Linked DNA regions of Homo sapiens. The protein of the gene in region 3 purifies or fractionates together with the protein of the main gene of each other region. This does not show direct contact. Each region holds a gene or a part of one and is shown on either strand. Other genes may lie near its edges.

The links. Proteins that work in one complex are often made in the same cells at the same time.
Region 1: the proteins of OGDHL (region 3) and NDUFAF7 purify together in Homo sapiens (affinity purification with mass spectrometry; one large-scale study listed by BioGRID and IntAct). This does not show direct contact.
Region 2: the proteins of OGDHL (region 3) and CEP135 purify together in Homo sapiens (co-immunoprecipitation; one large-scale study listed by IntAct). This does not show direct contact.

What each region holds. Positions count from the first base shown.
Region 1 is NC_000002.12:37,234,658-37,238,157, forward strand, and holds part of NDUFAF7 (protein arginine methyltransferase NDUFAF7, mitochondrial), read left to right. Parts: intron 1-1,438; coding exon 1,439-1,519; intron 1,520-3,099; coding exon 3,100-3,210; intron 3,211-3,500. UniProt on the Homo sapiens protein: Arginine methyltransferase involved in the assembly or stability of mitochondrial NADH:ubiquinone oxidoreductase complex (complex I).
Region 2 is NC_000004.12:56,007,945-56,011,444, forward strand, and holds part of CEP135 (centrosomal protein of 135 kDa), read left to right. Parts: intron 1-382; coding exon 383-438; intron 439-1,790; coding exon 1,791-1,959; intron 1,960-3,467; coding exon 3,468-3,500. UniProt on the Homo sapiens protein: Centrosomal microtubule-binding protein involved in centriole biogenesis. Acts as a scaffolding protein during early centriole biogenesis.
Region 3 is NC_000010.11:49,752,324-49,755,823, reverse strand, and holds part of OGDHL (2-oxoglutarate dehydrogenase-like, mitochondrial), read left to right. Parts: intron 1-3,083; coding exon 3,084-3,186; intron 3,187-3,500.

The DNA of each region.
Region 1 (3,500 bases), on a different chromosome or scaffold from region 3:
CTTGATTTATTTTGAATGCTGAAGGGGGAAAGTTGAAGCTGGAAGAGAGAAGGGGACAGCTAAAAGGACTCAGGGGAGTTGTATGAGGAATGGTCCAGAGCACAGGCGGAGGGATTAGGTTTGGATGAGAGGAGAAGGGGAAGGCATTTCATTCTTGGAGTCCCCAGATTAGGTTAGAGGCCAGGTGGGGATGGGAAGCTGAGGAATTCGTATTTTATAACATTCTTTAATTCTGGAGTGAGACTGGGGCCCATGTCACCTGTAGTAAGGTGGTAGAATAGGAGCTTGAGAAGCATAAGAAATATTTAACTCAATTCTTGAGTGTTTCTTGAAGGTTAGGCATCGTGCTAAAACTTGGGATATGAAGATAAATAAGGCATGATCTTCTGCAAACAACTATACTTTGTGGTGAAGAACAGAGACAAATTAGCTCAGAAAAGGTGGCACTGGATTTGGCCTTAGGTTGGAGGGCTGGAGGAGGTCAGCTAGGTGGCATTTGAGCAGATTCGGAGGTTGAGTATAAGACTGCCAGGGAAAGTTGAAAAGGGAGAAGGGTGAGGATTTGCAGTGGCATGGATGTCTGGACAAGCAAGGCTAATAAGAAAAAAAAAAACAACCCTTTTTCTGGAGATATAATATTCATATAGAAAAGTTCATAAACCACAAGTTTACAGCTCAATGAATTTTCACAAAGCAAATGCTCCCATGTAACCAGCACCCAAATCAAGAAACAGAACATCACCAGCAGGCAGGGCCCATATGTGAGGCAGAAAGTGTTAGAATTTGGAGAGGAGGCTGGAGGAGTAGGCAGGGTCTTGCTGTGTTGGGTGTGGGAGCTGGGAGGGGAGGAAGGGTCTGGCGTGCAGAGATGGACGTTACATGACTTCTGCCTTTACGGTCAAGGTGTAATTGTTTTTCTACCGGTTTTGTAAAATGACTGTTACTTTGTAAAATTTGGGTAAAGACACCATATTTCCCTTGCTTATTTATTTATTTATTTATTTATTTATTTTTTGAGATGGAGTCTCACTTTGTCACCTAGGCTGGAGTGCAGTGGCGCGATCTCGGCTTACTGCAAGCTCTGCCTCCGAGGTTCACGCCATTTTCCTGCCTCAGCCTCCCAAATAGCTGGGACTACGGGCACCCTCCACCATGCCCGGCTAATTTTTTTGTATTGTTTTTAGTAGAGATGGGGTTTCACCATGTTAGGCAGGATGGTCTCAATCTCCTGACTTCGTGATCCACCCGTCTCGGCCTCCCAAAGTGCTGGGATTACAGGCATGAGCCACCACACCTGGCTCCCCTTGCTTATTTAGAGGAGAGAACTTTCTTACTAAATAATTATTTCACTTTTACATTATTTAAGATTTTGGAGGGGTATTTTTAAAAGGCTTATTTGAAAATTAATTTTGTTTCTCTATTTTCTCTTTTTACTCAGGGTTATTATGTGTACCGTGACATGCTAGGCGAAAAAGGAGATTTCATTACTTCACCTGAAATAAGTCAAATCTTTGGGGAGGTAATATACTATGTAAAGTATGAATGAAGCTAATATAAACATTTGAGAGCAGATCAAATTGTATTATTCTGTAGTAGTGTTCTACAGCTTTTTTTGTGATTCATCAAAAGTTTTAACTTTATAGTAGTTTATGTACTGAGGGAATAGAGAGGCAGTAGAGGGGAGTAAAATGGTAGAGAGAATATTTGAAAAGTTTATACTCCACTGTAGGAAGGGAAATGGAGAGATAAGAGGGACAAAGAGAAAGAGAAGGAAAGGAGGGGGTCATAAAGAGGACAGAAAAAGGAGAATCAGATGAAGGAAGAGAATGGAAGAAGGGGCCAGGCGTAGTGGCTCACACCTGTAATCCCAGCACTTTGGGAGGCCGAGGCAGGCGGATCACAAGGTCAGGAGATCAAGACCGTCCTGGCTAACACGGTGAAACGCAGTCTCTACTAAAAAAAAAATACAAAAAATTAGCCGAGCGTGGTGGCGGTCGCCTGTAGTCCCAGCTACTTGGGAGGCTGAGGCAGGAGAATGGCGTGAACCCGGGAGGCGGAGCTTGCAGTGAGCCAAGATGGCGCCACTGCACTCCAGCCTCGGCGACTGAGCAAAACTCCGTCTCAAAAAAAAAAAAAGAGAATGGAAGAAGGAAGAGAGACAAAAGGAAAGGCGAGGAAAGAGGTAGAGTGCCCAGGAGAGTGCCCGGGAAGGAAGAGAGAAAAGATAAAGAGCATTGAAGAATTAGTGGAATTAAGAGAAGCTCTAAAGCTCCCAGTCATGATTTTAGCCGTACTTACAGTAAAAGTCTTCTTTTATTTATCTATTTTTTGAGCCAGGGTTTTGCTCTTATTGCCCAGGCTGGAGTGTAGTGGCGCAATCTCGGCTCACTGTAACCTCTGCTTCCCGGGTTCAAGCGATTCTCCTGCCTCAGCCTCCCGAGTAGCTGGGATTACAGGCATGTGCCACCACTCCTGGCTAATTTTGTATTTTTAGTAGAGACAGAGTTTCTCCATGTTGGTCAGGCTGGTCTTGAACTCCCGACCTCAGGTGGTCCACCCGCCTCAGCCTCCCAAAGTGCTGGGATTATAGGCGTGAGCCACCACGCCCAGCCAAGTCTTCCTTTAATAAACAGAATTCTAATTCATTTCCACTAAGTACCTTCTATGAATTTAGAAATAGGAAATAGTGTATACGAGGAAGTAGAATGTGCGTATCGAAAAACATTAGTTATTATAAGAATCATGTAATTGTTTAAATCATATGAATATGAAGAAATGGCATAATCACATTTCATATGTTTATTTGCTTTCAAATACTAATACCTTTCTGCTAGTGATATCCTCTTATCTATGTCATGGGACCTTTTATAGCAGAGGCTGCCTTATTTTTTCCTATTAATCTTCCTAAATGGTGTATGTTATGATGTAGTCCCAGGAAGTTCCTATGTGAACATGTACGTATGTATTGAACAACATACATATGGCTGTACACATTTTGCTTTTTGGCATATAGTGCATATTTATGTGAAATTTTATATTGTGGTATACTTTTATACTTTATAATACTTTAATATGTGTTTTTTTTTTCCCTTTTCACAGCTACTAGGTATATGGTTCATTAGTGAATGGATGGCCACTGGAAAAAGCACAGCTTTCCAGCTGGTGGAACTGGGCCCAGGTAGGGGAACCCTCGTGGGAGATATTTTGAGGGTAGGTAATAAAAGAATGTCTTCTAGTCTCATATAAGTGAATTTTAGTACTTCTGAGTGTGCAAACCATGTTGATTTCATTGGTTTTCAGTTCCTTAATTTCATATTTCTCAGCTAAAATATAATGTCAGAATAATGTAATCAGTCATTACTTACTGTTGTCTGTAAACTTAAAAATTGGAGGGGAGGGGGAGAATATGAAAGCTAAAAATAGGAAACATTTAGAAGACATTATGGGAGAGTGTATTTGTTTCCTCAGGAAGGAAAGTTGTTAATTATATTAAAAGTTTA
Region 2 (3,500 bases), on a different chromosome or scaffold from region 3:
TTTAGACCCAGAAGTTTCCCAAATATGCAGTTATTATTGGCCATGTAGAAGTTTCTAAGACCTAGGGCCATATTTTCTAATGTTTAAATGTCATTTTTTTCAAATAATGTTAATCTTCAAAATGTGATTTTGTCTATTTCTAGAATGTGATTTTATCAGATCTCATTAAAGCAAACTCAAGAAAACTATTCAAGGGTTGGTCAAAACATGCCAGTATGTGAAGTATGATTGGGACATGGAGATATGTTTACTTGGAGCTTTGTTTTAGGCATACTTTATATAATTGAGCTGTGTATTTGAACTATATGAATATGACAAGTTACATAAATTTAGCTAAAGACATTTTGGTTTAAAATCTTACACATTTTTGTAATTTCTATAGGAAAAAGCTGTTGCTCAAATGAAGATAATGATCTCAGAGTGTGAATCATCTGTGAAGTAAGTCATTAATGAAATTACATCCAGCTTTTTAGGAGATTTTCAGTGAATACAGCTTTATCTATTCAGTAGCATTGCAGCAATAGAAGAATTTCCCTTTCAATTTCCCCATTTTTGTCAATGGTAGCATCATTTTCTCAGTCTCCAGCTTGAAAATGTTATCTTCTTTAACCTCTCCTTTTCTGTCATCCACATCTAAACACTTATGTCTTATTAACTATTCTCCTATATACCTATTTGTTCCTTATTTTTACTATAATTATGCCACTTGGAGCCTAATCATTAAAACCTAAAATTACTTTAGTAGCCAATCTCGAATTTATTCTCCATCTAAACCTATCTTGAGCACTGTCACAAAATTTTACATTTTATGTATAGTCTCTCTAGGCAGATTGTAAGCCACTTCAAGAAAAAAGTCACTTATTATATTTATTTTACATACCCTTAACATTTTATATAATAGTGGGGATTATAAACATTTAATAAATATTTGCCAATTGAATCTATGCTTTACTTTTTGTTTGTTTGTTTTTGAGACAAGGTCTCACTCTGTCGCACAGGCTGGAGTGTAGTGGCGAGATCTCTGCTCACGGCAACCTCACCCTCCCCAGGCTCAGGTGATCCTCCCACCTCAGCCTTCTGAGTAGCTGAGACTGCAGGCGTGTGCCACCACGCTCAGCTAATTTAAAAAAAAATTTTTGTAGAAACAACGTCTCCCTATATTGCCCAGGCTGGTCTCGAACTCCTGGGCTCAAGCTATTCAACTGTTTTTGTTGTTGTTGTTGTTTTTTGTTGTTGAGACGGAGTCTCGCTCTGTTGCCCAGGCTGGAGTGCAGTGGGGCGATCTCGGCTCATTGCAAGCTCTGCCTCCCGGGTTCACGCCATTTTCCTGCCTCAGCCTCCCAAGTAGCTGGACTACACGTGCCCGCCACCACACCCGGCTATTTTTTTTTGTATTTTTAGTAGAGACGGGGTTTCACCGTGTTAGCCAGGATGGTCTCTATCTCCTGACCTCATGATCTGCCCGCCTCGGCCTCCCAAAGTTCTGGGATTACAGGCGTGAGCCACCGCGCCCAGCCCCCAAGCTATTCAACTTTTAACACTTGAAAGTTTTCTGTGTTTACTTGACTGTTGGAATAACATTTTTTTTTAACTTCATTTGCATGTAATTATTGGTAGAGCTCTAAAATACCTGTTCTACCTAATTAATAGGTCTCTTAATGCAGCAGTTATAATTTCTTATAATCACAGTATATTTGTATTCTAAGTATACTTAGACTATAAGTTTTCTTTTAAATGAACTACAGTTTTTAAAAGTTTTCTTTATTAGTTTCACATCACTCATTTAACAGCCAGCTGAAAGAAACATTGGTTAATCGAGATCGTGAGATAAACAGCCTCCGGCGCCAGCTTGATGCAGCTCACAAAGAACTCGATGAAGTAGGAAGATCTAGAGAAATCGCTTTTAAGGAAAACAGAAGACTGCAAGATGACCTGGCTACAATGGCAAGAGAAAATCAAGTATGAACACAAGGCATAAATTTTGATAGTTTTATACTTTCCATTGTTTGCTAAATATTAAAGCTCTAAATATTTTTTCTAAAATCTGATGATATAAAAATAAGTGACATAAATAATTCATTAAGGACAATGGTGTTTATCAGGGTATTAAAAAATGGAGCTTAGGCCGGGCGCAGTGGCTCACACCTGTAATCTTAGCACTTTCAGAGGCTGAGGTGGGTGGATCACTTGAGGTCAGGAGTTCGAGACCAGCCTGGCCAACATTGTGAAAACCCCCCCCCCACCCCCATCTCTACTAAAAATACAAAAATTAGCCAGGCCTGGCGGCATGCGCCTGTAATCCCAGCTGCTCGGAAGGCTGAGGCAGGAGAATCACCTGAACCTGGAGGCAGAGGTTGCAGTGAGCCGAGATCGTGCCACTGCACTCCAGCCTGGGCAACAGAGTGAGACTCCATCCAAAAAAAAAAAAAAAAAATGGGCAACAGCGTGAGACTCTGTCAAAAAAAAAACACATAGCTTAGAATGCTGCTATATATCACAGGGTGTCTAATGGGTGCAACTGGTCTTCTCACCATTTTGGTCTTTGTTGCAAGGAAACCTAAAGGTGGGAGCATGAAATTCTGTATGTCAGAAATCATTGTCACCCTACCGGGCGAGGACATCAGCATCCCTCCCAGAGCAAAGTTTCTGTGTTTTAAAGACTCAGGATAGGTTTTAATTATTTGTGCAAGCTTCTGTCGGCTCCAAAATACACCTGTAGATAAATGAATGAGTGTTTTAGAATGGCAAGTACTGAAAGGTGTTAGTTCTGTTCGTGCTGGTTTCTTAAAAGATTGTACTGAGAAAACCAGTGATTTTACTGTTTTAAACATCTTACGTTTTTAAAAAATTATTTTCCGTATTATTCAGCATAAAGCATATTGATGAAATATGAATGTTTTTTAATGTCAACCCCTGACCATAGCTAGCCTTTAGTGTAAATGCCAGATACATGATCAGGACTATTATGGGAAATGTGTGATAAAGTTTGGTTAAAAAGTCAGTATCAGACCAGGCGTGGTAGCTCACGCCTATAATCCCAGCACTTTCGGAGACCAAAGTGGGAGGATTGCTTGAGCCCAGGAGTTTGAGACCAGGCTGGACATCATAGTGAGACCTCATCTCAGAAAATTAAAAAAAAAAATTAGCTGGTATGGTGACATGTGCCTGTGGTCTCAGCTACTCGGAGGGCTGAAGTGGAAGGATTGCTTGAGCCCAGAAGGTCGAGGCTGCAGTGAGCTGTGATCACGCCATTGCACTTCAGTCTGGGCGACAGAATGAGACTCTGTCTGAAATATTTTAAAAGGCAAGATCAGCCAGGAAAAATATGTGAAAATAACACTTAGGAACAGTTTTCCTTTTGCCCTACTCTATCTTATTCTCCAATTCCAAAGGAATTATTTGAATATAAATAAAATTTATTTGGTGTTGTGTTCATTTTAGATTGTCTTTAATTTTCTGATTTGTAGGAAATCTCATTGGAATTGGAAGCAGCAGTGCAA
Region 3 (3,500 bases):
TAAATACAGGGAAACGTTCAGGGTGCTGCCCGAGGGCCTTATCTTCTAAGCACAGATCTCAGCCCTTCAGTAGCTCTTTGTTCTTTGATTAACCAAGACGAGGCATTAGAGAGTTTTCCTGGCAGGGTGGCTTCTGGATTCAGGTGTGTTACTCTGTTGTGCCTGGTGTGGATGAGCTCCCACCAGGAGGGCTGCAGCCCCTTACAGGCGAGTAGCAGGCACAGCTGTGGTTAGAATCACCTGCACACTGTGCTGAAAAAAAAACACTGTATTATTATAAGCATTTTCAAACATATAAAAGGCAGAAGGATAGTGCAGTGAGCCCACCACCCATCAATCATGGCCAGCCTTGTTTCATCAATTTCCCCCTTAGCCCCCGCTCACTGCTGATTATCTTGAGGCAGATCCCAGATATAGCATTTCATTCATTGAACATTTCTTTGTGTATGTCTAGAGAAAAGGGCTTCTTAAAAAATGTGCCATGATACCATTATCGCATCTAAACATAATAATGCCTAATATCAAATATGCAGTTGACATTTGTGTTTGCCTTTTGTCCTGTGCTTTCTTTTTTTCTTTTTAGATGGAGTTTTACTCTGTCACCCAGACTGGAGTGCAGTGATGCAGTCTCGACTCACTGTAACCTCTGCCCCACGTGGTCAAGTGATTCTCCTGGCTCAGCCTCCTGAGTAGCTGGGATTACAGGTGCTTGCCACCACGCCTGGCTGATTTTTGTGTTTTCAGTGGAGACGGGGTTTCACCATGTTGGCCAGGCTGGTCTTGAATTCCTGACCTCAAGTGATCTGCCCGCCTTGGCCTCCCAAAGTGCTGGGATTACAGCGTGAGCCATTGCACCCAGCCTGTGCTTTCTTTTTACTGCTTCTTTGAAGCAGGATCCAGCTAAATCCACAGGTTGCAATAGGCTAAAGTGGCTCTTACGTCTCTTGTACTTTGCAGGTTCCCTCTGTTTCTTTTTATGATGTGGAAAAACCAGGTGGTTTGTCCTGTAGGGTTTTCCCAAGTCTGGATTTTGCTGATGGCTTCCTCATGATGTCATTTCATCTGTCCCATTGTCCCATGTAATTTCTGTACTTTGACAATTAGATCTAGAGGCTCGATCCCATAGACATTTGATTTTTTTTTTTTTCAAAATCAGCTTCCTGGTGGTGATGGTGATGGCACTTGAGCAGTTAGCAGCTGTGGATAGTGATTTCCTAGATCCATTAACTCACTAGGGGTTGCAAAAATGGTGATATGCCAATTCTGTTTTGCCTTCTTTATTAACTGAAGTCCCACTATCAGGAGAAACTTCCGTTTGTTAACTCTGTTTATCCTGAGGTGCAGATTGTGTAGGAAAGACAGGATCACTGCTTTATTTTTTTCTTTTATTCAGTGATTTTCAAAATTATGAGGTGATTCCCTAGCACACTCCAAAAGTGACTAATGAAAGTTTATCTTCTTTTTTTTGGATTCATATGAATGCATGAATATAAACATATTTGATGAGTTTCAATCTGCTGTAGGTATACTGTCCTTATAGTTGCTCAAAACTTGTCCTTATTCCCAGCACTCGTGGTGTTTGAACACTGCCTTGATGTTGGTATAACAAGATGCTTCAAGCTCAGCTTGTACATTTCTGCCTATTCCAGAACTGTCCAGGTCTCTGGCTGTTTCCTGCTATTGGTTTGATCATTACTTCTGGGCCCTTTCAGGAATCAGAGCCAGGAAAGGGTTTATACTGATGCTTCTAACGTGCTACAAATGTGGGATTTGGGGTTTGTCCTTGACCCTGTCAATCTTATGGCAACATTGCCTTTAGAGATGTCAAAAATAGAGGTTCTCAAAGATGCCAGTACAATGGCTTGTTTGATTTCCCAGAGCTCACATGCAACAATCTTAGAATAACAGTTCTTTTTTTTTTTTTTTTTTTTTTTTAGATGGAGTTTCTCCTTGTAGCCCAGGCTAGAGCGCAGTGGTGCGACCTCAGCTCACTGCAGCCTCCACTTCCCAGATTCAAGCGATTCTCCTGCCTCATCCTCCCAAGTAGCTGGGATTACAGGCATGTGCCGCCACGCCCAGCTAATTTTGTATTTTTAGTAGAGATGGGGTTTCACCATGTTGGTCAGGCTGGTCTTGAACTCTTGACCTCAGGTGATCCACCCATCTTAGCCTCCCAAAGTGCTAGGATTACAGGTGTGAGCCACTGTGCCCAGCCAGCATAACAATTCTAACACTATTACGACTGACTGGTAATAAAAAAGACTTGATGAATTTTTTTCTGTTTGTCTTTAGGGAATGTTCCATTAGTCAATTGGAATGGTTTCTCTCTGTATTTATGCCACTAAGTGGACATATTTATTCATTTGATTCATTTCACTTTCAATTTTTAAGACTTAATTTTGTTTTATAAGAATGTAAAATATTTACAAGGTTTGAAAGTCAAATCTTCAAAGTAAGATAACTTCTTAAAAATCTGGCTCCTAGCCCTGCCTCTCTATCCTATTTTGTCCCCTCCCCTAGAGGATAATTTTTCTTATGTTGTGGTTTTTTTAAATTTTATGATTTTCCCTTCTAATGCATATATTTATTTGTGTCTCCTTTTTATTAGATAATGTGTAGTTCACCATACATACTTTGCTAGAATTTGCTTTTTTGCTTAACAATATTTTTTAGAGACTACCTTGTAGTATCAGATGGGGATTTTTCTTCTTCCTTTTAATGGCTCTGGAGTGCTCCGCTGTGTGGATCGCCCATATCCATGCGCCAGTCTCCTGCTGATAGACAGTGGGGAAGTTTCTAGAATTTCACTATTACTAGTAGCACCGCAGTGAACACCTTTGTGCATAGGTCTTTTTCCTGTTTTTGCCCGTGCATGTTGTACTTCCAAACCAGGTTGAGCTCCTGCCACCTTACTGGCTGTGGCTGGGGTCTCGCAGGCAGCAGTGAAGTAGCCGCGGGGCAGAGACATGGGGAAGCTTAACATTCGGGAATGGGAAGAGAGGGGCTGGGGCCCAGAGCCTTACCCTGGAGGAGGTCTGTCCAGCTGGGTCCCAGCCCCACCCTGCTCTTTTCCCTCCTCCCAGATCCGGGGTCACCATGTGGCCCAGCTGGACCCCCTGGGCATTCTGGATGCAGACCTGGACTCCTTTGTGCCCTCAGACTTGATCACAACCATTGATAAACTGGGTAAGACCCTTCCTCAGGACGGCCATGGCAGTGCTGTGTGGGTGGCCCAGTAAGGGGCCCACGGGCACTAGGGACAGCCTGATCCTTGGGAATCCATGGAGCTCGGGGAGCAGCCCACAGGGCCTCCTTTCTACCTTGCCTGTGTACTGCCTGTTGTTCCTGAGAAGGATGCCTGCCACTTTCCCTAGCTTGTGCCCCATGTGTTCAAGCCTGAGAGGCTTGTCCACCCTGCCTCCCTGGGCTCACTCTCACTTCTGCTCCCCAGGTTGGACCCAGAGGGAGGGCACTGGGGAGACTGGGAGGTCTGGTGAGAC